Linked DNA regions of Homo sapiens: region 1 is linked to region 2. The links come from fine-mapping of genetic effects on gene expression. A gene starts in region 2. The other region holds a variant in brackets. All regions are shown on one strand. Distances are from middle to middle.

Region 1 (15,550 bases), 60 kb before region 2:
GACCTTGGATTTGGTAATGGATTCTCAGATACGACACCAAAAACATGAGCAAAGAAAGAAAAAGAGACAAATTGGAATTCATCAAAACTAAACACTTTTGTGCATGAAAGGACATTATCAAGAAACTGAAAAAACAACCGATGCAATGGGAGAAAATATCTGCAAATCATATATCTGATAAAGTTTTAAAATCAAGAATATATAAGGAACTCCTACAACTCAATAACAAAAAGACAACTCAATTAAAAATGAGTAAAGGATTTGAACAGATACACATCCAAAGAAAATATACAAATGACCACAGGAAAGTATACTCAACATCGCTAAACACTAGGAAAATGCAGATCAAAACCAAAATGAGATACCACCCCACACCCATTAGAATGCCTGCTATATATTAATAAAAGAAAAATGAAAACACGATAAACTAAAAATAACATGTATTGATGAGAGTGTGTTGGTAAGAAATTGGAATCTTTGTGCACGGTTAGTGGGAATGTGGAATGGTGCAGCCAGCCTGGAGAACAATATGGCAGTTTCTCAAAAAATTAAACATAGAATTAACATAGAATCAGCTACTCCACTGCTAGGCATATACCCTGAAGAACTGAAAGCAGGACTCAGAGACATCCATGCTGATGTTCACTGCAGCATTATCCACAAGGGCCCAAAAGTGGAAACAAGCCAAGTTGCCATTAACAGGTGAATGAATAACAAAATGTGGCACGCCTTGTACATACAATGGAACATTATTCAGCCATAAAAGTGCATGAAGCTTTAATACATGCACCACATGGATGGACCTTGAAAACACTATACTATGTAAAATAAGTCAGTTTCAAAAGGACAAGTATCATATCATTCTACTTGTTTGAAACATCTACAAGAGACAAAGTAGCAGAGAAAGTAGGCTAGTGATTACTAGGGGCTGAGGGGAGAGGGGATGGGGAGGTGTTGCTTAATGGTTACAAGGCTTCTGTTTAAGGCAATTAAAAAGTTTTGGAAATACATAGTAGCAATGGTTGTCCAGCAATGTTCATATAACTCAGGCCACTGAATGAACATTTAAAAATGGTTAAAATGGGCTGGGCATGGTGGTTCACGCCTGTAATCCCAGCACTTTGGGAGGCCAAGGGGTGGGTGGATCACCTGAGGTCAGGAGTTTGAGACCAGCCTGACCAATATGGTGAAACCCCGTCTCTACTAAAAATACAAAAATTAGCTGGGCATGGCTGCGTGTGCCTGTAATCTCAGCTACTCCGGAGGCTGAGGCAAGAGAATCGCTTGAACCCAGAAAGTGGAAGTTGCAGTGAGCCAAGATCGCGCCCCTGCACTCCAGCATGGGCAACAAGAGTGAAACTCCGTCTTAATAATAATAATAATAATAATAATAATAATAAAATGGTTAAAGTGGCACATTTTATGTTGTGTGTATTTTACTGCAATAAAAAAAGTACTGATTAAACTGGCAGGAGAAACTAGTTCTGATTATTGCAAGGAGATAGAGTTGTTTCTCCATGAGGGATGGATGAGTATGTTTGGGACTCAGGAGAGTCACTGGGCTGTCTCTTAGTATCTTATTTATTTATTTACTTATTATTTTTGGAGACAGGGTTTTGCTCTGTTGCCCAGCTAGAGTGCAATGGTGCAATCACGGCTCACTGCAGCCTCAACCTCCTGGGCTCAAGCGATCCTCCCACCTCCGCCTCCTGAGTAGCTGGGACTACAGGCATGTGCCACCACACCTGAATAATTATTTTTCTTTAGAGATGGGGTCTTGCTCTGTTGCCCAGGCTGGTCTCAAACTCCTGGGCTGAAGTGATCTGCCTGCTTCAGCCTCCCAAAGTGCTGGGATTACAGATGTGAGCCACTGCGCCCTGCCTTCTTGGTGAATCTTGAACCTGCAATTAGATAAAATAGGCAGTCACAGCAGCCAAGGGCCAACCAAGACAAAGCTCAGGAAAGACTCAGAAACTGCAGGGGGGAAGGTGTGGTCACCTCACCTGGCACACAACTTAAACAAGCCAAAGTGCTGGCCAAGAGTGAGGGACATCTGGAGTGGTAGGTGCAGGAGGGAGACGATGAATAGCAACTGTAGTTTCATTCACAGTAGGATTTCCGCAGGCCTCCCCCTTGAAGACCTGGTGACAGGTTGGATTTGATGCAGGGCATGCCTGAGTCTCAGCGGTCCAAGAGGGAGATGATCAGACAATCACGGGCACCGCCTCGCATCCTCCTGGCCTCCGCTGATTCAGCTATGGCAGTGGTGAGCAGTTTTGTGCAAGCTTCAGCTCATTTGGGCCTCACAGCACCTTGCCTCAAGCATGCTGTTTGCTTTGGCCCCAGGGCTTCCTGAATGCTGTGGCATGGGATGGCAGAAAGAGCCCATTCAGCATGCAAACATATGTTCAGCCCGAAGGTACGGGGGTTACCGTTCCCAGGGAACTCTCAGCAAATGGGGGAGAGGCAGAAGATTCTGAAAGGTCTTCTGTCTACTCAGCAGTCCGCGTGGGACCGAGCCCTGGGTGCCTGTAGAGGGGACCAGCCTTGGTAATCCACCCTTGTGTTGGCTTGTCCTTCACTGTGTCACCTTCCCTGTTTCCTCATCCTGCTTCCTAAAATTGCCTCCAAACTCCACCTTCCCTCAGAGAAGGACTGAAGTAGGTAAGTGGAATTTAGTATCAGGTTTGTAAGGGTGAGATCGCAAAGTACTTAAGATACAAACACAAAGTGTCTATCCTACAGACCTGGGCTCAGTCCTTTTTTTTTTTTTTTTTTTTTTTAGACAGGACTGGAGTGCAGTGGCGTGATCTCGGCTCACTGCAACCTCTGCCTCCTGAGGGTTCAAGCAATTCTCCTGCCTCAGCCTCCCGAGTAGCTGGGATTACAGGCACCAGGCTAATTTCTGTATTTTTAGGAGAGACAGGGTTTCACCATGTTGGCCAGGCTGGTTTCGAACTCCTGACCACAAATTATCCACCAGACTTGGCCTCCCAAAGCACTGGGATTACAGGTGTGAGTGAGCCACTGCACTGGGCCACAGCCAGTGTTGAAATTCCACATAATCACAGACTAAGTTAAAATTTCAAATTAAACATATCTGGATAATTTCATCATAGCAGAAATGGTGAAGGGGTAAATTCTGGCAAAGTGACACGCTCAGTTTGTTAGGTTACAATCGGGAGGGCAGCGTCTTGAACGCGCTCCGGCGCCCATGGTCCCTGGATTTCCTAATCTATAGCACCCTCTAGTGTTAGCTTTGCTTCATGTCCAGAGCTCAGTGGTAAAAGCCTGAAATTCTGCCTCTGCACAAACCATGCTAAGTGGAAATTTGTGACAGAAGAGGCTCCTTTTATTGCTTTTTCTCTAAGGAGAAGTCATCAGGTGCTTAAATCTTTGGAAATAAATTTGTGCCACCTGTATGTTTAAAATAAAGTATCATGCTTTATGCTTCATTTGTTCTTCCAACAAGTAATTGTTGGGGGTCCCTGCGGTCTGCAGAAGGCCCCATGTTGGAGCAGGAGGTTTTAAATGAAAACGCTGCACATTTTCACAGATGAACAGGGAAGGAGGGTGTCACGCCAATGTCCAAACGGGGAAGTAGTTGGCCGGTGCGTGCAGGGGAGAGAGCTGCCACCGTTCCCCCTCAGTCCCACCTCAGAATTCATCATCCTACCTGGCTCGGAAACAGATTTGGGGAGCATAAGCTCTCTTTATAGTTTGCCCCACAATCAATTTCAGTGCATCTGTGCAGAGTGACATGAACTGTCCTAAATGTCTTCTAAAATAAAAAGACACCTTTGCCTCACTCGGGGCTTCGCAGCATTAAATGTACTTGGGTTAAAGGCTTCAGCGTACTCCAGTGGGGGCGCATCTTCCTACACTTTGGATAATTCATATGCATGAGAAGACATCGTCATTTTCGGTGCAGTTCTGAAAGGAAGTATTAAGGGCGAGAATTTGATTTTAAGTGAGGGAAGGGGAAAAAAAGGTGTGAATTTAGCTCCAGACTCTGCAGAGGATGAAAGAAGATGTTATATTTCTGTTTGAGACGTTGCAAATCACTCTAGAGTGCCCTCTGAACTTCTCCCTCAGCCCACCTGTCCACAGAATGGCTGGGATTCACTCCACTCTCCAGGATTTACTGTCACCTCTCCCATCCACAGTCTTTTAGGAACAGACCATCTCAGACAGCCCCTAAAGTTACCGCATGGACAACAAATTGTTCTGCAAAGTGATAGCATAGAATGCACCAAAACATCTTGAAAGAAACTTACTCAAGATGTGCTTGTTTCCTCAAGATGATATTTTATTTGTTTTAACCGGCAGTCTTGTGGGTATATATGTCTATGTTTAGCCAAAATGAAAAATGCTCCTAAAATAAAATCTCAGAAACTTTGACCAGAGTGCTTGTATGTTCTAAGGGGGAAAGAGTGTTGCATAATTCGTTACGGGGGCAGACTAAACCTTCCCTCCACTTAGAAGAGTGGGGCTGGGTGTGGTGGCTCATGCCTGTAGTCCCAGCACTTCGGGAGGCCAAGGCAGGAGGCCAGGAGTTCAAGACTAGCCTGGGCAATACAGGGAGACTCTGTCTCTAAAAATAATTTAAAAATTAGCCAGGTGTGGTGGCATGCACCTGTAGTCCCAGCTACTCAGGAGGCTGAGGTGGGATGATCACTTGATTCCAGGAATTCCAGGCTGCAGTGAGCTATGATTATACCACTGCACTCCAGCCGGGGTGACACAGTGAGACCCTGTTTCTAAAAAATAATTTAAAATAAAACTAAGTAGAAGAAAGATGGGCACTAAGCCTAAAAATTTGACCTCACTAAACATAAGGTGTTAGTTCAGAGCTCTGGACCCCAAAAGCTGTGGCCTGGAGTGGGTGAGTGTTTTATTGTCCCTGATATGGGAAAAGGAGTCCAGGAAGAGGCTGGTCCACAGATAAGAGAGTAGCAGGAGACCCTGTAAGATGCTGAGAGCCTGGCTGGGCCCAAGTAACTCTCAAGAACCAGGAGGTCTCAATATTCCCTTCCAGGCACCTGGTGAGCCACGCCGCTACATTGAACCCTCACTGGCCACTGTAGACCCAACAGTCAAAGTCTGTGGCACCAACACCTTGTGTTATAGAGACTTTGGGGAAGTCCCCGAGAAGGTCTGGAGCTCCCAGTTCATTTGGGCCAGGCACACTGAACAGAGGGAGGGCTGGAGGAGCTGAGGAGGGAGGCGAGGAGGCGAACCCTGAAGAATCAGGCTTTAGAGGCTCCTGATCAGGAGAAACGCACAGGTGGCTCTTACCACCTCTCTCAGCAACCTTTAGAGATTCCGGGCTGGTGTCTGCTAGCTTAAAAATCACTCATTTAAAATAATTAAAAATCATTTAGAAAAGGAGGGCTTTATTTCTCATATAGAGTTACAACCTGCAAGGCAGCCACCCTGACTGGCTAAGAAGTGTAGTCTCCAGTAGAAGCCAATAGGCAGGCACTTTGAGGAAGGGTGGGAGGGGATAAGACAGGAATTCAAGCTGAATGGGTTGGCCAGGTATACATATTCAACGGGATATAGGAAGAGCTATGAATATTCTTGGAAGGAGGCCATACACATGTGTGATAAGCAAACATGCATGTTACACACATCCCATGTTCACCTTGGAGTGGAGAATACACATTTAAGTGTATTACAATCGGGCTGTAGACGTCAAAAGGTGAATCAGGGACATGAAGGCATTGCACAGCCTCTGTAAATGGGCAGAACCAGGCCATGGTCAGTGGTCTCTTATCAGGAGAAAGTTACTGAATCAGCCTCTTGTCCAATCAAAGCTGCAGTTCTGGCTGGTGGAACGAGGGTCAGTTAGTGTCTGGCAGCGGGCGAACTGCAATTGTTTTAATATTACCTATCTCCAAGCCATTGGCTTGTTTAGCTGCTAGAGAAAAAGAAACCCCTTGCGGCAGCTGGAAACTAGTTTATTCTTTAAGTGTAGGGGTGTGTGACTTAACCCTTCCCTGATATGGCCCTTAGGTCCTGGTTATGATTTGGTATCTTACTGTCACAGAGTCCATTCTGCCAGTCTTATGACCTCTATTTTATTTTTATTTTTTAGAGACAGGGTCTCAGTCCATCACCCAGGCTGGAGTACAGTGGCGTGATCTCGGCTCACTGCAACCTCCACCTCCCAGGTTCAAGCAATTCTCCTGCCTTAGCCCCCTGAGTAGCTGGGATTACAGGCACCCACACACCCGGCTAATTTTTGTATTTTTAGTAGAGAAGTGGTTTCACCATGTTGGCCAGGCTGGTCTCGAACTCCTGACCACAGTTGATCCTCCCACCTCAGCCTCCCAAAGTGCTGGGACTACAGGCGTGAGCCACTGCGACCACCATGACCTCTATTTTAACATGAATGCTGCTCATTTGTGTTTAAGCCACAAAAGGGAGTGGGTAGAGCGGGGTGTGTCTGACCTCCCTTCCCATCATGGCTGGGAACTCTGTGGTTAAGTTTCCTCTGGGGTCCCCTTGGCCAAGAGGGGGTCTGTTCAGTTGGTTGGGGGGCGCTGAGGATTTCATCTGTAGTTCTCATGTTTCACTGTAAGTAGACTGAGGGCTTAAATCACTTTTATTTGTTAATGTTAAGGGGGACGTCCATTAAACCTGAAAGACTTGGGGACACCAACAAGGCTGATAGCCATTAGATAATTATTATTAATGACAGTCATTAGTGATACCAATTATGTACCAATCATTCCGGGCATGAGAGCTACAGGGATAAATAAGACATAACAGCCTCCTCCCTTGTGGAGCCTGCCTTCTGGGAAGGGGGAGTGTTGGTATTCCATGAAAGTGTGACAATATCAAAACAGGCACAGTGGCTCACGCCTGTAATCCCAGCACTTTGGGAGGCAGAGGCGAGTGGATCACTTGAGGTCAGGAGTTTGAGACCAGCCTGACCAACATGGTGAAATCCTGTCTCTCCTAAAAATACGAAAAATTAGTCTGGCATGGTGGCGGGTGCCTGCAATCCCAGCTACTTGGGAGGCTGAGGCAGGACAATTGCTTGAACCCGGGAGGCAGAGGTTGCAGTGAGCTGAGATCGCAGCCATCGCACTCCAGCCTGGGCGACAGAGTGAGACTCCTTCTCAAAAAAAAAAAAAAAAAAATCTTATTTTTTGTCTGTTGTTCTACTAACAGGTTTGGCTTGCAGGAAATCTGCAATGCCTGGGACATTTCAGATTTGCAATTTAGGGAGGACCAGGGTGTACAGACCTCCAACCTTGGCACTCAGAGCTTAGTCTCCTCCCTGACTTTCCCTCTTTTTTTTTAAATTGCTTTGTCATCCAGGCTGGAGTGCAATGGCACGATCATACCTCATCACAGCCTTGAGCTCCTGGACTCAAGCGATCCTCCTGCCCCAGCCTCCTGTGTAGCTGGGACTACAGATGTGCGCCACCATATCCAGCTAATTTTTTATTTTTGTAGTGACGGCTCTCTATGTTGCCCAGTCTGGTCTTGAACTCCTGGCCTCAAGCGATCCTCCCACCCCAGCTTCTCAAAGTGGTGGGATTACAGGCGTGAGCCACCAAACCTGGCCTGTACTTCCCATTTGGCAGCACTGTCTCGATAGTATTGTAGCTCTGGTTGCTGTGTTCATGCATACACTTACGTTTTCTTTCTCTGAAAAGTCAGGGATGCCAGAAGGGGACCTTATCTCTCTTGGCTACTGTTCTATTCCCCAGTCTGAAGGGGGAGCTGGCACTGGGAAGGCCCTGAGTCCATGTTTGTTGTCTGGGAATACCATTAAAGGTAACTGACCACTTTTGTTTGCATTGACTAGAAAGACAAGAAATGATGGCTTTAGCTGTATAATACTCTCCTCCTCCAGGCACTTGCAACAGCCCTACCAAATCATATTAATGATAATCACTCATGGTAACCAGTCTCTGAGTTGGACCCAGTGATCCATGCCTACCAGCCTTCATGCCTCTGTGCAGTCCCAGCCACATGGACGAATGTGTAGGGGTGTTGCAGTGATGGTGTGCAACCTTTAAGCCAGATCATGAAGACGCTGTGGCTTCTGCTTGGTTGTTTGGATCCTTCCCTCTGGAGGATGCCAGCTTCCTCATCAAGAGGACATTGGAACAGCCTGTGGAGAGCCCCACATGCTGAGGCACTCAGGCCTCATGGCCAACAGCCCAGCCACATGAGAAAGTGGTCCTCTGGGAAGCACATCACCAGGCCCAAGCACCCCTTCAGATGACTACAGCCTCAAGAGAGGGCCCAATCTAGAACCGCTCAGCTACAGCACTCTCAAATTCCTGACCCTTGGGAGCTGTGAGAGAGGACATTGGTCTTAAGCCACTAAGTTTTGCATTTGATATGCAGCAATAAATAACAACTACAGTGATACTGATGTTGTTCCTTAATAATACCAATTAGTGATGATTTCTTAGTCTTTTTTTTTTTTTTTAAAGAAATGGGGTCTTGCTATGTCTCCTAGGCTGGAGGGCAGTGATGCAATCATAGCTCACTGCAGCCTCAAACTCCTGGGTTCGAGTGATCCTCCTGCCTCAGCCTCCCAAGTAGCTGAGACTACAGGCACAGGCTACCACACCCGGCTAATTTTTAAATCTGTTGTAGAGACGAGGTCTCACTATGTTACCCAGGTTGGTCTTGAACTCCTAGGCCTTCCAAAGTGCTGGGATTACAGGTGTGAGCCACGATGCCAGGCCCCACATTATCTTTTTTAAAAGATGCAATATAAAACCTTAGCAAACAGTGTGCTCGCTTTGCAAATGCAGCTTTAAGAGAAGCCCCTTACCTTCCAATTGCATCGTTGCCCCCGAGTCCCTCCTACGCGGAAATCTGGTGCTTTCACTGTAAGAAAAGCAGGCATAAGAAAGTGAGAGGGTTGAAGTTCTATTTATTGCCACAGTCAAAGGGGGCAGCCAGAATAAACGCAGGGTTTCCGGGGAGTTAGCTGTGGAGCGCAGCAGAAAGGCCGCTGGGGTCTGGCTGGGAGGACAGATTTCCTTGGCGCGCTGTGCAGCCTTCCCAGAGGATGGGAGCCGGGGGGGATGGGGGGCGAATTATTTCAATAATAAAGGAAAGGAAGATTTTTATTTTAGGTCAATAAAACAAAAAACTCGACCATAATTCGTTAATTTTATTGAAATGGCATGCAAATTACTTGATGAAACTTAGCAGAAAAGCGGCTCGGTGCAAACAACGAGCATTGTTTGGGAGCGCGTTTCCCGTTGGTCTCAAATCCACATACAATATTTCCTTAGTGCTTAATTATTTCCCCACTGCTCGCGTCTGCAGGGCTGAGCCCTTTGTCTGGCTCGCTTTGCACGCGGCGGGCAGCAAGTGCGGCGCCCTCCCCCGCGCCCGGCACAGATGGGGCCCCGGGGCCTTTGTTTTAGGGGTGGAGCGACAAGATCTGTAAAGCGGGCGCTCCAGGCTCGGTGCACGTGCTGCGGGCGCGGGGGTCCCCAGGCCACCGTCCCCTTCCTTCCTCCGCCCCATTGTCTGCCGGCGTATGGGAAGCCGCTGCGCTCCTGCCGTGCGAGCGCTGTAATCTTTGAGGTTTCTGCAGATTTGTGGAGGAGCTTACTTGACAGCAATCTCTTGGCGTGCTCAGATCACTCTGCAAGCCTCTGGCACACGCAGGGCCGCCGCTAAAGCAAGGGCCTCTGGTACCCCGGGCCTGCCCCGCGCAGCTCCCCCTGGCAGCTCCTCCAGCAAAGCACCTCAGCACCGAAAAATAAAATCCTACGGCGGGGATTTAGACCAGAGAGGAGTGAGGGTTTGGGGCCTGGCGCCTGCTTGAGCCTCGGGTAGGGGAGGGTCTTCCTTGGCTACTGGGTATGCTGTGGGCCCACGCTGCACCCCTAAATTCCTGACCCACAGGACCTGCCAAAGGTAATCCATCGCCCCAAAGTCACCCTATTCGGGTGGGATCTCTGCTTTCATAACAGAGAAGGGTCCCAGCAAGGGGACTGAGGAATGAATGTGTGCAAAACACTGGTTTCATTCTGAAGTCAGAAGTGTGGTTCCCCCATGCAGCTGGAATTTTGCAGGGACGGCCCGGCTATAAGATGGGTAATGCATGTAGAGTAGGAGGGAGGGCAGACCCCAGAGACCCCACCCCACTGCAGGTGAAACGCAAAAGAATGCCTTGCAGATTCCAAGGTGCCCACTCTTCCCGGCGCTCCAAACTATCAGGATGTTTTCCGTGCTGGAGGAGTCCCTGACATTTCCTCCTCTCTGATTTTCGCCATATTTACAACGTGTGTGTGTGTTTACCTTCCTGGACTTCCCTGCCTTCCAAAGGCGCTCTGCACCCAGTGCAAATGCCCTCACCCTCAGGGCCCTCTCAGGTCTCCCCATCTCTGCCAGCCGTGTGTTAAGCGAAGAACAGAGGCTTGAAGGCCAAGAGCCCTAGATTTCTGTTCTGATTGTGTTACTGACAGTGTGATCAAGGGCAGGTCCCTTCCTCTCTCTATTTTCGGGGTAGCCTAAGAAATCGTCTGAGAACTGGAGGGGCTCTGTCTAATCGAAGACTGTGACTGCGGAGCCTCGGTTCTTTGCAGGGCCCAGAACCCGCCCCTCCATCAGCAGTTCCAGACTCTGAGCCTGGGAGCGTGCATTACCAGGAACATGGAGACACGGTGGCTACACGTGAAGGTGGGTTCTGATGATGCTAGATTGCTGTGGGCAG[A/T]TATTCTGGGACTTCTCAGAGCCCTGAAATCCTTCCTTTGTGGAAAAGTCAACTGGGCCGAAAGTTGGACCTGATGTCCAAGATTTGAGGGTCACCCTTCCCCACGGGTGGGGTCTCTTGGAGGGGAAGACCTTCACTGTTGGAGTCAGCAAGCCCATTCCTGAATCCCAGCTCTGCCTCTAGCAGCTGCGGGTGTCTGCAGCCTCTAATTTAACCAAGAAAATCTCCAGCCCCCTGCTTTTCAAGGTGGAGCTACCACCTGAAATAGGATGTGACCTAGCCTGAATGTGCCTAGAAGTTTCAGCTCCTCTGTTTTCATGATCACTAGTATTAGTGTTTCATGATCACTAGTATTTACCTTCTCAAAATATAGTTTGTCAGCCGTGTGCCGTGACTCATGCCTGTAATTCCAGCACTTTGGGAGGCCAAGGTGGGTGGGTCACTTGAGGGCAAATCGCTTGATGTCAGGCGTTCAAGACCGGCCTGGACAACATGGCGAAACCCCGTCCCTACTAAAAATACAAAAATTTGCCAGAAATTGCTTGAGCTTGGGAGGCAGAGGTTGCAGTGAGCCAAGATTGTGTCACTGCACTCCAGCCTGGGTGACAGAGCGAGGCTTCGTCTAAAAAAATAAAAAATAAAAAGTTAGCCAGGCATGGTGGTACACACCTGTAGTCCCAACTACTAGGGAGGCTGAGGTAAGAGAATTTCTTGAACCTGGGAGGCAGAGGTTGCAGTGAGCCGAGACTGCACCACTGCACTCCAGCCTGGGAGACAAAGTGAGACTCCATCTCAAAAAAAATTAATACCAGGGTTATGGAGACTTCTCCAGCAATAATGAAAGAAATTTTGCAGATATATAGAGACAATCTAGGTGACATTCTTTTTAAAATTGTGTGCACCACAGGCTAACAAACAAGCAAATACCATGGGTGACTTCATTTATGTACACTGGAGCGAAAGAGAACATTCTGCTATAGAACAAAACCTCAAACAGACCAAAGCTCCAATAGAAGAAAAGACAAACCACCCCCACCCCAAATTCAAAGCTGCCTTAAAGTAAAACTAGTGGGAGAAAGAATTTGCATCCTCTGAGCAATTTGAAATAAAAACTTCAGAATCATAATAGTGACTCTACCATAATTTTCTGTAATAAAACATCTATTATAACAGATATGGCAATACAATAAAAGTCCTATTGTTCCAGAAACTGTATTATAACTGAAACAGGATAATTATAGAAATACTTGCGTGAGAATTGCATGTTCAACAGAACCATTGAAAAATCATTCTTCTCAGACTGAAAATAAGTCTTCCAGGCACAGAAGAACTCTTCAGTGAGATCTGAAATGCAAGACAAGGTGGATTTTTTTTAAGTCTTTTATAGCAGCTTGACCTTCTAAAGTCTCGTCAGGGCCATCTGTAAACTCCAAGGCCCCATCAGCCTCCAGCTCTGAGTTCCACACTTTATTTGGAATACTAACATCTATGAGTAGATTTTTAAGTAGGGCATCTCTTTATATTCTTTCAATAGACAGATTTTCGGGTGAATCTTGGCTCTATCGAGTTCATTTGTAAATTCTAACTTAGAATTTTTAGCTTTTTAGAACAGTTGACCTCTGGAACATTTTGTAGAAATCCCATCCTATGTGGAAGGCATTGCTGATAGTACCACCCTCCCTGTTTTATAGTTTACAAAGCACCTTTCAGTTTTTATTCCTCTTTGAATCCTCACAATAATCCCAGGTTGTTGAGAGCAGGGATTCTCATCCTGATTTTGTATTTGAGAAAATTGAGGATTATCTGTTTGGGAGCAGGGGCTGGGGGATTTGTCTGGAAGCTGTGTTTGCAGTGTAAGCATGCTGTTTTTACTTAGTTTGTCTTTTTTTTTTTTTTTTTGCTGTGGCTTTGGGGAAACTGATGAGAATTAGTGAGGAACCAGAGGGCCTGCAAGCCCTCTGTGACAAGTAGGGCTTGTCATCACTACTGACTTTTAATGTCCCATCTTGGGTAACCTGGTACTTGAAAGGTTGGGAACCTGGAGGAAATTCACTGAGTGATGATGGTGGCTGAGGGACTGAGGGAGGGAGCTGGGAGGAAATAATAATAATAATGACAATGATGATAACACACACTCAACATGACAGCAAATATGCAGAGTGGTGCTAAGTGGTGACTAAAGGGACATGATAACCATCTACAAATATTTGAAGGATGTAAACACCAAGGAAGAAGATGAATTAATTATTTAAAAGAACAGTGATGAAGCCTGGGAAGAGATCATTACCAGTCCCCAAGCCACCTTGTCCTTCCACAACCCTTTCAGGATTAAGCTCTCCCAAGACCGAAGGGAGGTGGCAGGATGGTTTCCCTGCACACAACAGTCTTGACATAGGCATGGCCCGAGGCTGTTAATATTTTTTTGAGACAGGATCTCACTCTGTTGCCCGGCGAAGTGTAGCAGTACGATCACAGCTCACTGCAATGCAGCCTCAGTCTCCTGGGCTCAAGCGATCCTTCCACCTCAGCCTCTTGAGTAGCTGGGTCTACAGACACATGCCACCATGCCCGACTAATTTTTAAATTTTTTGTAAAGATGAGGTATTGCTATGTTGCCCAGGCTGGTCTTGAACTCCTGGTCTGAAGTAATTCTCCCACCGTGACCTCCCAAAGTGCTGGAATTACACTAGTGAGCCACCGCGCTTAACCCGAGGCTGTTATTTTTATTTTTTTGAGACGAGGTCTCGCTCTGTCGCACAGGCTGGTGTGCGGAGTGCAGTGGGGCCATCTCAGCACACTGCAACCTCCGCCTCCCAGATTTAAGCGATTCTCCTGCCTCAGCCTCCCGAGTAGCTGAGACTACAGGCGCGCTACAGCACGCCCAGCTAATTTTTGTATTTTTAGAAGAGACGGAGTTTCACCATGTTGACCAGGATGGTCTCGATCTCTTGATTTCGTGATCTGCCTGCCTCGGCCTCCCAAAGGGCTGGGATTACAGGCATGAGCCACCATGCTCAGCCCAAGGCTGTTATTTTTATTGTGCCATGGGTGGACATGTATGTACTATGCACGTGCTCAGATTATAATAATCACAGCTGGCATCTGGTGAATACTTCGTGCTAGGGTTTGCATGTTTCCTTTAAAACTCATGTTGAAATTCAATGGCCGTTGTGGTGAGATAGATATATATTATATTAAATATTATATATAATATTGTATTATATATAATTATATATAATAATATAATATATAATTATATATAATATATAAATACATATTTATATATTTAATATTTATATATTTATATATTTATTTTTTATATTATATATATAATATATAATATAATTATATATAATTTATATATATATATAATTTATATATATATAATTATATATATATAATTTAATATATATAAATATATATAATTATATATAATTATATAATAGTACAATTATATATACTGATATATTATATTATATATTATATAATTCTATATCTTTGTCCAAACTTATATATTATATAATTCTATATCTTTGTCCAAACTTATATATTATATATATTTTATATATATATAAATATATATATTTATATTATATAAATATATATATTTATATTATATAAATATATTTATATATTATATATATAATATATATATAATATATATAAATATATATAAATATAATATATATATAAATATATATAATATATATATAAATATGTATATTATATATATAAATATATATATTATATATATATATAATTTATATATATATTTATATATATATAAATTATATATATATAATTATATATATAATATATATAATTATATATAATTATATAATAGTACAATTATATATACTGATATATTATATTATATATTATATAATTCTATATCTTTGTCCAAACTTATATATTATATAATTCTATATCTTTGTCCAAACTTATATATTATATATATTTTATATAATATATAATATATGTTATATATATTATACGATATATATTTTATATATATATATTTTTTTTGAGATGGAGTCTACCCTGTTACCCAAGCTGGGGTGCAGTGGCATTTTCTTGGCTCACTGCAACCTCCACCTCCCGAGTTCAAGAGACTCTTCTGCCTCAGCCTCCCGAGTAGGTGGGATTACAGGCATGTGCCTCCATGCCCGGCTAATTTTTTTATTTTTAATAGAGATGGGGTTTTGCCATGTTGGCCTGGCTGGTCTCAAACTCCTGACCTCAGGTGATCTGCATTGGCCTCCCAAATTGCTAGGAGAACCTTTCAGCAGTGATGAGGTCATGAGGGCTTTGCCCTCATGAGTGGATTAATGCTGTGATCACAGGAGTGGGCTCTTGATAAAGGAATAAGGGTGGCCCTCTTCCCTCTCTTATGCTCCCTCTTTATGTGATAACTTCTGCCATCTTATCATGTAGCAAGAAGGCCCTCACCAGATGTGGCCCTTAGATCTTGGAATTTCCAGCCTCCAGAACTATGAGGCAAATAAATATCTTCTCTTTATAAATTACTCAGTCAGTGGCATTCTGTTGTAGCAGTAGAAAACAGATTAAGACACCTGGTATTAAGGGTTGAATTGTATAAAGATGTGTTGAAGTCCTAACCCCATCACTGGGAATGTGACCTTATTTGGAAATAGGGTCTTTGCAGATGTAATCAAGTTAAAATGAAGTTATTAGGGAGGGCTCTTAATCCAATATGACTATCAATCAGAAGAGAGAAGTTTGGGCTGGGTGCAGTGGCTCGTGCCTGTAATCCCAACACTTTGGGAGGCTAAGGTGGGCGGATCACCTGAGGTCGGGAGTTTGAGACCAGCCTTACCA
Region 2 (15,550 bases):
GGAAGGGGGATTTCCCAGTAAAGGGGATGTGGAGGCCAGACAGGGATGGGAAGGCAGTGATAAAGTGTGCTACTTAGGCCAGGTGCAGCGGTTCATGCCTGTGGTTCCAGCGTTTTGGAAGGCTGAGGCAAGAGGAGGCTCGAGCCCAGGAGTTTGAGGCTACAGTGAGCTATGATCATGCCACTACACTCTAGCTAGGTGACTGAGTGGATTCTATCTCTTAAAAAAAAAAAGTGCTACTGAGCCGGCTACTACTGTGGGCAGCAGAGGGCAGAGGTTCAGCCCCGCTGGGGAGCCTTGAAAAACAGGGCGGAACAGGCCTCAACGGGACATCAGAACGGTCTGTGCCAGGAGACCTGGGTGTCTCTACCCCCAACCCAACCCTGACTCTGCCATCCACCAAACCAAGCTGTCACAGGCCCTGCAACCCACGCAACCACCCAGGAAGTGCAGCAGTCACCACCACCATCACAAGCACAGGCGCCGAGTGCTTCCTGTCAGCCAAGCGTGACTATCTCATTTAGTTCCCACCCAACCCCAGAAGGCAGAATCCCCACTTTACAGGAGGGGAACTGAGGCGATGCTAGGAGGCAGGGGCCCTGGAGCTCGCACTATGCTGCCGTCCCGAGTGGAGTGTGAGGCCACACAGGCCCCTCTGTTGGTGCCCTAAGCACTAAGCACTAACTCAGAGCTCATGCCGGGCGCCCCCTGCTTGGTCCACACACACACCAGCCCACCAGACTCACGACCTTGAAGACCCCATAAATGCCATAGATTCCCCATTCCAAGCCTCCAGTCTTGGCCTCTCCAAGCTCTAGGAGGGCTGTCAGCATAGATGTTCACCTGCTTGTCTAATAAGCTCCTCAAACTCAACACATCCAACAACAAACCTCCGCAGACCTGCACCTCTTCCTCTCCTTCAGTGACACCACCATTCATCCAGGAGTTCAAACCCCAGACCTAGGACACATCCTTGAATCTCCCCCTTCCTGTACCTCCAATATTCAAGCCATGAGTAAATCTCATCATCTTTACCTCTCAAATCTAGCCTGCCCATTTCTCAGCACATAACTCCGCCACCATATCGGTGGCAAGGTGCCATTGTGTCCTACCTGAGACAGGCTGTCCCAGGGTCAGCTCCTTCCTGCAACGGGTTCTCAGTTCCTTTTTGAAAGGGTTCTCCCTGACAACCCCAGCTCAGGCAGCCTCTTCCCACACCCAGGACAAGCATTGGTAATCCAAGGTCTGAGAGTCAAATCCGGCCCTCAGCCTGCTTTTGTTAAAGATTTATTGGGACACAGCCACATTCGTTCATTTATTATTGTCTCTGGTGGCTTCCACACTGCAATGGGAGAGTTGAGTGTTGGTGACAGGGACTACATGGTGACAAAGCCTAAAATATTCACCACCTGGCCCTTTGTAGAAAAGGTCTGCTGGCCACTTCTCTGGGATTCAATCGTTTTTCTTTGTGGGATTTAACAGGACCTGCTGTTTGCTTGTCTATTCATTGCTTGTGTGTTTTCTGCTTCCCTGCTCAGTTCTTAGCTCCATGAGAACAGGAGCTTCTTCTTGTTCATTGTGTCCACAATTCTTGGAGCCATGCCAAGCACATACTAGATGCTTCATAAGTAGCTTGGCACGGTTCCAAGCAGGTCCCAAGGCCCACCATGCATGACTCAGCTCTTACCTCTACAGAGGAAGAGGTGAGAGCTGGCCCCACCACCACCACGTGCACACATGCATTCCGGTACACACGGCACGCCTGGGGCTGAGCTGATCACACCCATAGTGTTTCTGGGTCACTGAGCTGCAGTTCTGAGCCTGGCCACCAGTAGAAAGCCAGAGTGGGGCCCCAGTGTGAGGGTGGATGCATTGCAGAACAGAAGATGCTGGGCCCTCGAGTCCCGTTCCACTTGCCCCTGCAGATCACAAGTGTCCTGAGAAGGGCTGCCCACACTACCTTACGTAAGAACTGCTATTTTTAGCTTGCTGATCTTGGCTGTATACTGCAAACCTAGGGGATTACCAGTGACAGAACTGACCTGTCCCACCATGACTGATCACCGAGTACCTGGCTGAGGGACAATCTGACAAAACCAGAACTGCATTCCACAAAGAGCAATGACTGCCCAGCAGAGACAACCAAAATGCCTACCAGCAGGGAAAAGGATAAAAACCCGGGGCTACTCACGCAATGAGAGATACAGATCAATGTGGTCTGACGGCAAACAACAAACGTGGAGTGGAAAAACACAGCCTGTAGAATGTTGTATGTAAAGTGACACCACTTATGCAGGAATTACATAACATTCTGAAAGTGTTCAAGAACTATATCTATGAATAAAAATAGGTAGGAGGAAGGCCGGACACAGTGCCTCACACCTGTAATTCCAGCTACTCGGGAGGCGGAGGCAGGAGAATCGCTTGAACCCAGGAAGCAGAGGTTGCAGTGAGCCAAGATGGCGCCATTGCACTCCAGCCTGTGTGACAGAGTGAGATTCCATCTCAAAAAAAAAAAAAGGAGGGGAAAAAAACAAAACAAAAAATAAATAACAAGTGTTGGTGAGGGTGTGGAGAAACTGGAAACTGTGCACTGCTGATGAGAATAGGAACTGGTGCAGCCCCTAAGGAAAACAGCATGGAAGTTCCTTAAAAAGTTAAAAATACTCACGCCTGTAATCCCAGCACTTTGGGAGGCCGAGGAGGGGGGATCATGAGGTCAGGAGATCTAGACCATCCTGGCCAACACGGTGAAACTCTGTCTCTTAAAATACAAAAAATTAGCCTGGTGTGGTGGCGAGCGCCTGTAGTCCCAGCTACTCGGGAGGCTGAGGCAGGAGAATGGCGTGAACCCAGCAGGCGGAGCTTGCAGTGAGCCGAGATCGCGCCACTGTGCTCCAGCCTGGGCGACAGAGTGAGACTCCGTCTCAAAAAAAAAAAAAGGTTAAAAACAGAACTACCATATGATCCAGCAATGCCACTTCTGGATATATATCCAGACTGAAAGCAGGGACTAAAATAAATATCTGCTTTCCCATGTTCATATCAGCATCATTCACAATAGCCAAGAGGTGGAAGCAACTCAAACGTCTGTCAATGGGAGAATGGATGAACAAAATGTGGAACATACATACCATGGAATACTATTCAGCCTCGAAAAGGAAGGTAATTCTGACGCACACTACAACACGAATGAGCCCTGAGGACATCATGCTAAGTAAAGCAGGCCCATCACAAAAGGACAAATACTGTAATAACTTATATGAGATATACATACTGATCAAATTCATAGAGACAGAAAATAGAATGGTGGTTGCCAGGGGCTGCCAGAAGGGGAATGCGGAGGTTGTCTGGGTATGGAGTTTCAGTTTTAAACGATTAAAAAGTTTTAGAGGCCAGGTGTGGTGGCTCATGCCTGTAATCCCAGCATTTTGGGAGGCCAAGGCGGGCAGATCACTTGAGGTCAGGAGTTCGAGACCAGCCTGGCCAATATGGTGAAACCCTGTCTCTACTAAAAATACAAAAATTAGCCAGGGATGGTGGTATGTACCTACAATCCCTGCTACTGAGGAGGCTGAGGCAGGAGAATCACTTGAACCTAGGAAGTAGAGATTGCAGTGAGCCAAGATCACACCACTGCACTCCAGCCTGGGCATCACAGTGAGTTCCGTCTCAGAAAAAAAAAGTTTTGGAGATCTGTTGCACAACAATGGGAATATACTTAACACTACTGAACTGTACACTTGAAAGTGGTTAGAATGGTAAAAATAAAAGATAGGAAGGAGAAAGTCAGGAGTAAGTAGCCTGGGGAGAGGACATAGATGTGACCAGGAATGGAGGGCTCAGATTGGATTCCACTTTCGTCTATAAGGTTTCATTTTTAAAAAAGTTTTTTTAAAAAAAGGCAGCAGCAAACACGATGAAATCCGAATATCTGCCAATTTCAAGAAATGGGAACACGTGTTGCTTCTTCTAATTTAAGGTCTTCAAAAGGAAAAGAATTACAGGCCAGTGTCTGGATTGGGTCCTGGGCTCCATGGGCTGGGGGCCGCTGAGCATGTCTCATGATGGGACGCCTGGCTGGGCCTGATAGGGTGACCACATGGCATCCAGGCCTGGGCACCTGCAGGGGATGTCAGGAGCCCCGAAGAAGCAAGGCCACGTGTGCCCCCAGCCCAGCTGTGTGCTGAGAAGTCAGGCCACTGGTGAAACGGGATGAAAACCCAAACCTGAGACTGCAGACCAAAGCCTCCACATTCAGTAGCTGAGGCAGGTGGGCTTTGTGCCCAGAGAGCAGGTAGCCCTCCCGCAACCCTGGGGGCTTGTTGAGCTCTGGAGACTGGGCCAGCCAAGTGGATGGCATGGAGGAAGGGAAGGAGCAGCACCAGGCAGAAGAGAGCTGCAGGCAGGGGTGCCCAATCCACCCTGGACCCGTCCAGCAGAGGGCAGAGTCCATGACGCTGTCTCTGCAGCCCTTGGAGGGGGTGCAGAACACTCCACATGGGACCCCTTTGCTGCTCTGCCCCCACCCATGACTCACAGACCCCCTCTAGGCTCTTAGGGCTAGTGTCCAGCTGCTGATGGTAAAATGTGGACCAGGAAGGGCGAGGAGGGGCATCTGGTGGCGATGAAAGGGGCTGGGCTGAGAGCTGACCCCACACACTGACTGGGGAAGCCAGGGGCTCACATGTGCCCTCCTTTGTGAACCTGCAGAGGGTCCCAGGTTGGGCGAGGGGCGGGGCAGACAACATCCTCCTGGGAGCTGCCCCGGCATGCTCACCTTCTCTACATGACCACAACTTCACATCCTGGTTTGACCTTGCCTGTAGGTTTTTCTTGGCAAATACAGCAGCCCTGAGTTAGATGGGGAATGCTTTTTTCTTTCTTTCTTTTTTTTTTTTTTCTGAGACATTGTCTTGCTTTGTTGCCCAGGCTGAAGTACAGTGGCACAATCAGGGCTAACTGCAGCCTCGAACTCCAGGGCTCAAGAAAGCCTCCCGCCTCAGCCTCCTGAGTAGCTGGGACCACAGGCATGCACCAACATGCCTGGCTAATTTTTAAATTTGTTTTAGAGGCGAGGGTTCACTCTGTTGCTTAGATAGGTCTTGAACTCCTGGCCTCAAGCAATCCTCCCTCCTCAGCCTCCCAAAGTGCTGGGATAGCAGGTATGAGCCACTGAGCCCAGCTGGGAATCCTTTTTTTTTTTTTAATTGTTCTCACTAGGGAAGTGAACCTCCCTTGCTTAGCACAGGGGAGAAAAAAGCTGAGCCCTGTCCTTACTCATTTGGGGCCGGCCTGCCTCGGGAAGATGTTGGTGACAGAGCTTCCTGGCAGCCTCTGGGCCCTGAGTGCCTGTATTGGCCCCAGTGTGGCCCCAGGGCTGCTGGTAGAGGGGTGACCCCAGCGCAGGCTCAGTAAGCCTGGGAGACCAGGCAACGAACAGACCTGCATCTTTCTTTGAGGGTTCAGAGGGGTGGGGGCTCTCAGGCTCAGCAATCCTGCTGCCTGCACAGGGGCTGGAGGTGCTCATGTGAGCACTGCGGCTTGGGAGCCACATCCTGAGAGCCCCCGTGTGGCTGCAGAAGCCATGAAGCCAGGTTCTGTATGTGGCAGCCCAGGTGTGATACGTGATCAACAGCAGGGGCTGGAGAGCTACACCAAATCTGGGCCACTGCCAGCTTTTCTAAATCCAGTTTTATTCAAACACAGCCATGTGGGACAGAGGCTGTATGGCTGGCAAAACCTAAACTATTTGCTACCAGCTCTTGAGAGAAAAGGTTAGCCAACCCCTGATCTACACCATGCCACATTGTAAAATGTATAATGCACACACTGCAGGGCACGCTGAACAGGCCACACAAGGTACTGTCCTGACGGGAGTCGTCCTGTCCTCTCTCCTACTCCGGACACAGCATTTTGGATAAATGAGAGATGCGTGGGGCCCCAAGATGGTAGCCCTGGAAAGTAGGAGCTGGGCAGCGGTGGGGGATGGGGTGGGGGCTGTAACTGCTCTGCCTCGGGTTACAGGTGGAGAACCTGCTCAGGGACGTGCAGGGCCAGGGTCACCAAGGGAATCAGAGTTCTGGGGGCAGCTCAGCCCTTTGGACTTTCCCTTGACTTCCAGATCGGGGCTCCTCCTTCCCTGCAGGGACCTGGGCCGCACGCAGACCCACCCTGCTTCCATGCCTGCCTGATTTCATTTTCCAAATATTTATGAGTCCCACTGTGTGCCAGACACTGTGCGAGGTTACAGCCGGGAGCTGGAGACCAGGCCCTTCAGGAATGCACACTTCTTGCCAGTGAGACTAGAAGTACATTCACAGGGTCTTTTCTGAGAGCCAGTGCTAAACACTGTGAAGAAAAAGACTGGTGCGCCCAGCAGGGCAGGGCCTGGGAGGACGGTGGAGGTCGAGGAAGGAAGGCCTTGGGAGGAAGTGAACTCACTCCAGCCTGAAGTCAGCTGTGCAAAGATCTAGGGGCAGAGCTCCGGTCCTGGGGAGCAGCTCAAGGTGGAATGGGTGAAGTCAGGCTGCGGAGGAAGGAGCGATGGGGCAAGGAGGACAGATGAGGTTGCAGTGCCGGCAGGAGACATCCTGCAGGCTCCCAGGCCAGCGTGAGGATGTGAGGTTTTCTCCATGTGCATTGAGACTGCAGCATCAGGCGCCAAGCCTCCTCTCCCTCCAGAGGGGCCGCCCCTGGGCTCTGTCCAGCCCTGTGATTCCTGGAAGGCCCTCCTCCGGGAAGAGACCGGTAATGAAAAACAAAGCAAAACAAAACTGGAAGTGCCGCCGACTGAGCACTTAGAGCTCACCAGGCACAAAGTTAAGCATATTACGTTCATTATTTCACTTAATCCTCACAAAAGCCCCCTTGGGGAAGGTACTTCCACCACATCAAAGTCACTGCCCAAGGTCCCTGCTGAGTGATCAGGAAGCTCGGCTCCAAAATAACCATGAGCTGTGGAAAGCTGCACTCAACCAGAGACCAAATCAGAACTCCAGAAGTCAGAGTCCAGCGGGTGTTGCCTGCGCTCCAAATGCCTGATGCCCACCCCATCCCGAGCAGGTCCGTCAGCTTGGCTGGGCTGTCCCACCCTCCAGGCCACACTGGCCAATCCCCCTTCCTTCCTCGGGGTGGGCTGGGTTGGGCAGGTCCCCTAGTTCACCCAGGGCTGCCTGGCCTGTGTTTTGGCAGCCCGGAGGGCTGACGTGTGCAGGGACGCAGGCCGAAGTCAGAGAGTCATCTCAGCTCACAACAGACTCCAGTGGGAACGACGCTGTGCAGAGGGACGATCCCAGCGCATTAGGGGACTACCTCCCCACCTCCTTGGCCTCTGACCCTCTCTGGCCAGGAGATACCAGAGGTGTTCAAATTCCAAAGGAGTGCTCCCCTTGGGCTGCAGAGATCAAGTTTCAGCGTGGCTCGGAACCTCTCTGCTTTCCCACCTGCAAAGAGGCTGACCACACCTCTGCCCTACACGGCCCGCCAGGTGTTGGGGAAACGAGAAAGGAGGGAGATTCCAGGCCGCCTCTCTCTGCGGGCCTGCTCAATAGTTTCCTCTCTGAGATGGGAGCAGTGCCCGACCCTGTTTCCCTTGGCAGCTCCCACCAAGAATCACAAACTCAACTGCTCCAGAGGAACTGGGACCCCAGCGCCCCCCGCCGCGCCCCTGCCCAGGGGGACAGTGGTCCCATCCAGGCCTCCAGACTGCAGACTGGGGCTGAGAAGAGAGGTCCCGGCGGCCACACGAGGCCAGGATCCCGGAAACACCACCAGCGACCGGGTGCGCTGAGACCCCTGCAGTCCCGGGTGGCCCGCGACCCCCTTACCTCCACCAGCTTACATCTGCGCGTTTCCCCGGGGATTCCGCCTCGGACGCTCTGACCCCTGACCGCTCTCCCCAGGCTCCCTGCAGGTTCACCCCGCAAGCCGCCCAGGAGCGCCCTTCCCAGGCCTCTTCTTGGGCTGGAGTCAGCGGCACTGCGCCCCGCCGGCCCAGGAGCCGCCAAGACCGCGCGGCGGGAGAGAGCTCGCTTGTCCGGGGGTGGTGATGGGAGACTCGCCTCATGCGCCTGCCCCGCGACCCGCAGCCCGGCCGGGGGACGGTGGGGGGACTCACCTTCTGCGCCGGCCCCGCGCCCAGCCCTCGAGTCCACACCGCAGTAGCCCGGGTCCCCGCCCGCTCCGCCCGGGTCCCGGCCAGCTCCGCCGGACACGCCCCCGCGGTGGCTCGGCCAATCGGAGCCCGGGAAGCGGGAGGGGCGGGGCTTGGGCGCGGCGCTCGGAGGGCGCCCGAGCTTGTGCGCGCTGCAGGTCCGGGGCTGGGCGGGACTGTCGCCCGTGTTTGACCCCCTGGCCCCGCCCGGCTTCCCTTTCCGCTCGCCGCTGCCCCACGCGGAGCGCGACTGCCGTCACCCGGTGGGACTGCGACCCTGGCCTTGGGCAGGGGTGGGGTGGGGGCGCCCGCGACTGCGAGACCTGCGGGACTTGGCGGGGAAAGGGGCAGTGGGAGGCTTGTGCCTTCTGGTGCCTCCGGCGGGCCTCACAGCACAGTCACCCTCAGCGGTCAATAATCGTAATATGAAAATGCAGCAGCACTTTATAACCTTTTTTTTTTTTTGAGACGGTGTCTCCCTCTGTCGCCCAGGCTGGAGTGCAATGGCGCGGTCACGGCTCACTGCAGCCTGCACAGAAATCATCCTGACCCCAGGAGAATTAGCCCACCAGGACCGGCTAGTTTTTGTATTTTTGTACAGACGGAGGTCTCACTATGTTGCCCAGGCTGGTCTCGAACCCCTTAGCTCAAGCCATCCTCTCGCCTTGACCTCCTAAAGTGCTGGGATTTCAGTAGTGAGCCACCGCACCTGGCCTATTTTAAGCTTTTTATAGTGGAAAATTTCAAACTGAAGGAAAGAGAATAGTCCAGGGGACCCTGGTGCCCGTCACCCAGGTCCAACACTAGCAGCAAGTTATGTCACCCCTGACTCAACCGCACCTGAGCCTCCTGTGCGGCTCAGAAGGAAATTCCCAGGCCTCAGTGCCCGGAGGCCTTCCTGGCCCTCCCTGGCCTCCTCCCCACAGGTCCTCTCAAATGGGCTTCTTCCTGTTCCTTAAAGCCTCAGGCCTTTGCTTCTACCTCCATCAGACCTCAAACTGTCACCTCCTCAGGGAGGCTGCCCTGGCCACCCAAAGCGGTTCCCTGTCTCCACCCCATCTCCCTCCACAGTCACCCGTGTTTGTAATTTTGCAAAGCATCTCCCAACCCAGAGTCCTCTCCTGAGGCCGCTCGTGGGATTCAGGGCTGCCTACCAGGCTGTGGCTTCTGTGGAATGCTCATAAACAAGTCATGCTGGTGGCTTGCCTCCCACCCAGGCTGTGAGCCCCACGGGCTAGACAGTAATTTCTTCTCGTGTTCAGACAGGACTTTCTTCTGGTTCACCCCTGCATACCGAGTGCTGAGAACGGGCAGCGCATAGGAGGAACGCAGTCCCTACCTGTCACATAGATGCAGGTTGTCTTGCCAAATAGAACTCCACCTGGGCACCCTGAGAGGGGTGGCTCAGGCCGGGGCAGGCCTGCTGGGCCAGGACCAGGTGAGAGGGGAGCAGCGGGGGGAGGGCTGATGGGCTGTAGGGCTGTGGGGCTGGAGCTAGAAGAGGTGCCTGCTCTCTTGGCAGGGGGCTATGGGCGAGGCTGTGAGGTGGGCCCAGTGCTGGAGACGGTCCTCTCCCAGCTGAGAAGGGAAGGGAAAGGGGGTGACGGAGGGGGAGGGAGAGGGGACAGGCAAGTGAGAGGGCCACCAGCTGTGGCCTTGGGGAGCCCCCTCCCCACTACCACTTCATGGCGCCCACCCACTACCGTTGCCCTCATCAGCAAGGACAGCTTTTATGAGCATTCAACAGAAGTCACCGCCTGGTAAGTAACCCTGAACCCCACAAGACCCGAATAATGTCTGTTTGCTTTCAAAGTGTTTAAACATTTTTAAAATGCATTGCTGTGAACATTTCATATGGGGAGAGTTCACATAAAAATCAGGATCTTCAGCTTCTCTTAAATCAGAAGATTTGAGAATGCGGGTCCTCTTTAGAGGGGCCTTGTGTTCTCCCCTCCACTATGGTCCCCACACTCCCTCTGGTTTCCCCCTTGGGGCACTTTACCCCCTTTTGCACCTCCAGATGAATATACGTTTGGGTTTACAAGTCCTGAAGGGGCAGCCAGGCCTCTATACCACAGAGAGCAGAAAACACAAGGTCTGAGATCCCACAGGCAGAGTAATAACCAGGAGGGTCAGTGGGGCCATTGGGATGCTGGGAAACACCATCTCCTGTGTACACACTGCTTGTCACCAGCGGGTGGAGGGGGACTTCAAGCTGAGCCTTCAAGGCTGCGATCCATGACTGCTCAGTGCCAGCTCCGCCACCTCCCTGGCAAGGAGCTGCTTCTCATGGAGGGTAGGCCCTGGCTGGGGTGGAGGTGGCTGTGAGACTTGGAAGGGAGCCAGTCCCCTGGGAAGGCAGGGCTGTCTCTTTATAACAGTGTCCTGGCATCTAACACCTTGTCCGTACAGAGGAGGCCTCGGGAGAAGGAAGCCTTTTCATGACTGGGAAACTAGAGGGAGGATGTTCCTCCTAGCCTTGTCCTGCTGGTGGTCCAGGGCCCACTTGGACCTCAGTCTCCTCTTCTGTCCTTCCTTCCAACTATGGATCTGAATGGCGCTCCAAGAAACGCCCTGGAGGCAGCACGCACTGGTCTCCCAGCTGTCCATCCACTTCCCAGCGGGGCTGGCTGTGCGTGGGGACAGCTGGGTGGAGGGTGGAGGGCCTCGCTCCTCCAAATAAGAGAGGAAAAACTCGTGACTCAGGGGCAGGCAGAAGTTGAGTCAGCCAAGCCACATAGCTGTGGAAAGAATGAGGTTTCTCCGAGGCGTTTGCTACTTCTCAGGAAAGAAGCCCTTTTGGAGGAAAAGCTGGCTTCCAGACTGCGGGAACCCGGGTTTCAGAAAAGCAGTGGGGCTCGGCATTTTCAGGTTAGGGATTCTGGCAACCACCTCTGTGCTCAATGCCAGGAATTTTTTTTGGATCGTTTATTAAGTTCTGTCTACAGGCCAAGCACTGTGTGCTAAACATTTTATGTTATCTTATCTCTTCCCACACTAAAGCTGTCATTCCCAGCTTTCAGTATAAGAAACTGAAATAGGCACTGAAGTATTTAAGGATGAACACAAACATTCCAGCAAGAGAGAGAGAAAACAAAGGAGGCAGAATATTAGCAATTGGTAAATTGGGGTCAGGAGTCTCCAATCTTTTTCTGTAAAGGGCCAAATGTTAAGTACTTTGGGCTTTGAGAGCCAGGATCTCTACGGCAACTATTGAACTTCACTGTTGCAAAGCAAAAGCAGCCACAAACAATACTTAAACAAGAGAGTTAACGTCATGGACACTGATATTTGAATTTCATGTAATTTTCGTGTGTTATGAAAAATTCTTTAAAAATTTTTTTCCAACCATTTGAAAAAATTAAAAACCATTCTTAGCTCATACAAAACCAGGATGTGGGCTGAAGTTTACCAGTCCCTGATCTCTGGCTATTCGTTGAACTTTTCTTATAACTATTCTATTGATTTGAAAGTTTCCAAAACAAAAAATTGGGAAAACAAATTAAAGAAAAACAAAGGAAACAGAGGTCCTACTGTTTAGCTTGGGTAGATCCTCAAACTGACCCTAAATTTGTCTGATTCCCAAACTACTACATGCTGTGTTCTTTTTAAAACATTATTTTTATTTTATTTCAATTTATTTATTTATTAGAGATGAGGTCTTGCTCTGTCACTCAGGCTGGAGTGCAGTGGCACAATCATGGCTCACTGCAGCTTCTACCTCCTGGGCTCAAGCGATCCTCTTGCCTCAGCCTCCTGAGTAACTGGGACTATGCGCCCATGCAACTTCGCCCAGCTAACTTTTTAAATTTTGGGTAGAGATGTAGGGGAGGCGGGGGGGGTCTCTCTATGTTGCTCAGGCTGGTCTTGAACACCTGACCTTGTGATCCTCCCAGCTTTACCTCCTAAAGTGCTGGAACTAAAGGCACAACCCATCACACCTAGCTAATTTAAAAAATCTTTTGTAGAGACCAGGTCTCATTATGTTGGCCAGGCTGGTCTCGAACACCTGGGTTCAAGTGATCCTCCTGTCTCAGTCTCCCAAAGTGCTGGGACTACAGGTGTGAGCCACCGCACTTGGCCTAAATGCTGCTTTCTTTATAGATACCGTAACATACTAAAGACACTGAGTCTCAAAGCCATAAAATGTGGGGCATTTTGAAAAGATTTTTACTGAAATGGTTAAGAAGATTAGTTTTAAAGGAGGAAACCCAGAGATGTTTGGCAAACTGTGACTTCAAAAGAGAATCTTGAGGGCGGGCTTGCTGCAGGGGCCTTGGATTTGAAGCTGAGATAATCTCGACTCTACGGAACCATGAGATGACACTGACGCCCCCGCACCCACTTGCCCTGCCCGTCTGCCTGTTTATTCTTTTCTCTCTCTCTCTGTGTGTGTGTATGTGCGTGTGTGTGTGTGTGTGTGTGTATGCCCTGCATTTATCATTCCAGCTGTCTGCACATCCACTTCATGTTCACGGGCATTATTGTTTTTGTTTCCCAGCATGGATTTTCCCCTTGAGGCTCCAACCAGGCCAAAGGGGGAAAGGAGAAATAAAAGAAAACAGAAGCAGGCAGGGCGTGGTGGCTCACACCTGGAATCCCAGCACTATGGGAGGTTGAGGCGGGTGGATCACTTCAGCCCAGGGGTTCGAGACCAGCTTGGGCAACATAGTGAAACCCCATCTCTACAAAAATATCAAAAATTAGCTGGGCATGGTGGTGCGTGTTTGTAGTCCCAGCTACTCAGGAGGCTGAGGAGGGAGGATCGCTTGAGCCTGGGAGTTTGAGGCTACAGTGAGCCAAGATCACACCACTGCATTCCAGCCTGGGCAACAGAGCAAGACCTTGTCTCTAAAAATAAATAAATAAAACAGAAGCAATGCTTTTTGAAAAATGCCTTCGAGATGTGAAATAAATGTTGCAGGCCAATATAACCTGAGAGTATTAGACCCACCTAATGTCAATGGAGTACATCCAAGAGGCTTTTGACAGCACTGGTTTGACAAAGTTCTGTCTGGGTCATTCATTCATTCATTCAGCAATTACTGGATCCCTCTTTGTGCCACTACCCAGGCAGTGGATCCAGGGATGAATGTGGCACTGCCTCTACCCTTGGGGAGCTCACAGTCCATTGGGGCAAACCCATGAACACGTCATATTTATCCATGAGGAGAGAAGGCTGCCCACCCCGAGTAGAGGGCAGGGGTCTGTGCAGGAGAAGCTGTCTTGGTTGGATGACACATCTTGGAGAACCATTTGGCATTTCAGTGTCAGCCTTTGGGGTCTGGCTGGCAAATACCTCCTCACTTGCTGCATTTAAGGCAAGAACAGAAATTCCAGGGGCCAGGAACAAGCAAGCCAGAGAGAGAAAAAGTCCAGCACATGGCGTGAGAGAGGGCCAGGGAGGCTCTCTGGTTGTGGAATGGGGCTGGGAAAGGCTTCAAAGAACAGGGATGGGTGATATTCCATGTTACTTTTTATTCTTTTTAAAATTTATTTTATTGAGACAGGGACTCGCTTGGTTGCTCAGGCTGGCTTACAGTGGTGCAATCATAGCTCACTGCAGTCTTGAACTTCTGGGCTCAAGTAATCCTCCTGCCTCAGCCTCTTGAGTAGTTGGGACTTCAGGTGCACGCCACTACTCCCAGCTAATTTTTAAATTTTTTATTGAGATACAGGTCTTGCTATGTTGCCTAGGCTGGTCTCAAACTCCTGGTCTCAAGTGATCCTCCTGCCTTGGCCTCCCAAAGTGCTGGGATTACAGACATGAGCCACTGCACCCGGACAGGTGATATTCCATTTTTAATTACTTACTGAACTGCCCAGGGAATGCCCTACATTTTGGCCATTACCACCCAAGCCTTCATAAATCCATTTTCTTGCTGGTGAGAGCATAAATTTTTACAACCAACCTTCATGGGGGGCAATGTGGCAACATCGATCAAATTTTAAAATGTACAGACTTGGCCGGACACAGTGGCTCACACCTGTAATTCCAGCACTTCAGAAGGCTGAGGCAGGCGGGTCACCTGAGGTCAGGAGTTCGAGACCAGCCTGGCCAACATGCGAAATCCCGTCTACTAAAAATACAAAAATTAGCTGGGCAAGAGCCGGGTGCGGTGGCTCATGCCTGTAATCCCAGCACTTTGGGAGACCGAGGCGGGCAGATCATGAGGTCAAGAGTTCGAGACCAGCCTGGCCAACATGGTGAAACCCTGTCTCTACTAAGAATACAAAAATTAGCCAGGCGTGATGGTGCATGCCTGTAATCCCAGTTGCTTGGGAGGCTAAGGCAGGGGAATTGCTTGACCCCAGGAGGCGGAGGTTGCAGTGAGCTGAGATCGCACCACTGCACTCCAGCCTGGGCAACAGAGCAAGACTACGTCTTAAAAAGAAAAAAAAATTAGGTGGGCATGGTGGCGGGTGCCTGTAGTCCCAGCTACTTGGGAGGCCGAGGCAGAAGAATTGCTTGAACTCAGGAGATGGAGGTTGCGGTGAGCCAAGATCATGCCACTGCACTCCACCCTGGGTGACAGAGTAAGACTCTGTCAAAAAGAAAAAAAAAAAGCACAGGCTCTTTTTTCTCCAGCTGGTCCACTTCCAGAATTTATCCTTAAATACTCCTGTCCTTGTGCAAAAGGATATAAACACTCATTCATTTATTGTGGCATTGCTTACAGTAGGGAAATGCAGGGAGCAGCCCTAATATCCACTGACAGGGGCCGGCCAAAGAAATTACGAGTCATTCATACAATGGAATGGCTTCCCACAGTTTCAGGAAATAAGGCAGGTCTTCATGTCCTGAAATGCAAGGATTTCTAGGATATACTGAGTAAAAAAAAGTAAGGTATACAAGTGGACGCATAGTGTGAGTGTGTGAGAGTGTGTGTGTGTGTGTGTGTGTGTATTGCTGGCAGAATTCACAATAAACTGGTCATGGGTTTGCCTCTGGAAGGGAAAATGGGTGGGAGGGAGATTCCCATTTACTGTATACACTTGTGGTATTTTTGTTTGTTTTGTTGCTGTTGTTTTGTTATGTGTGTGTGTGTGTGTGTGTGTGTGTGTGTGGTTTTGTTTTTGTTTTTGTTTTTGTTTTTTGAGACTGAGTCTTGCTCTGTTGCCTTGGTTGGAGTGCAGTGGCACGATCATGGCTCACTGCAACCTCTACCTCCTGGGCCCAAGCAATCCTCCCACCTCAGCCCCCCAAGTAGCTGGGATTACAGGTGCACACCACCACACCTGGCTAATTTTTCTATTTTAGTAGATTCAGAGTTTCACCATGTTGTCCAGGCTGGTCTGGAACTCTTGGGCTCAAGCTATCTGCCCGCCTCGGCCTCCCAAAGTGCTGGGATTGCATGTGTGAGCCACCATGCCTGGCACCCTTGTGGTATTCAC

What was found.
Region 1: its variant is fine-mapped to the expression of PLEKHF1 in tibial artery (GTEx, PIP 0.90).

The regions. Positions count from the first base shown.
Region 1 is chr19:29,718,338-29,733,887 of GRCh38, reverse strand. It overlaps LOC107985345 (a long non-coding RNA gene), which reads right to left and starts at 9,755. Exons shown (of 3, transcript XR_001753891.3): 1 at 9,605-9,755; 2 at 8,810-8,865. RefSeq lists enhancers at 2,977-3,026, 3,147-3,196 and a silencer at 5,157-5,351. The variant A/T (reference allele first, on the strand shown) is at 10,712.
Region 2 is chr19:29,658,075-29,673,624 of GRCh38, reverse strand. PLEKHF1 (pleckstrin homology and FYVE domain containing 1) reads right to left here and starts at 8,164. Exons shown (of 2, transcript NM_024310.5): 1 at 8,120-8,164. LOC105372353 (a long non-coding RNA gene) reads left to right here and starts at 8,370. Exons shown (of 7, transcript XR_935896.3): 1 at 8,370-8,418; 2 at 9,418-9,593. RefSeq lists enhancers at 4,601-4,910, 7,057-7,106, 7,727-7,846, 7,298-7,851, 7,852-8,405 and 1 more and a silencer at 7,927-8,596.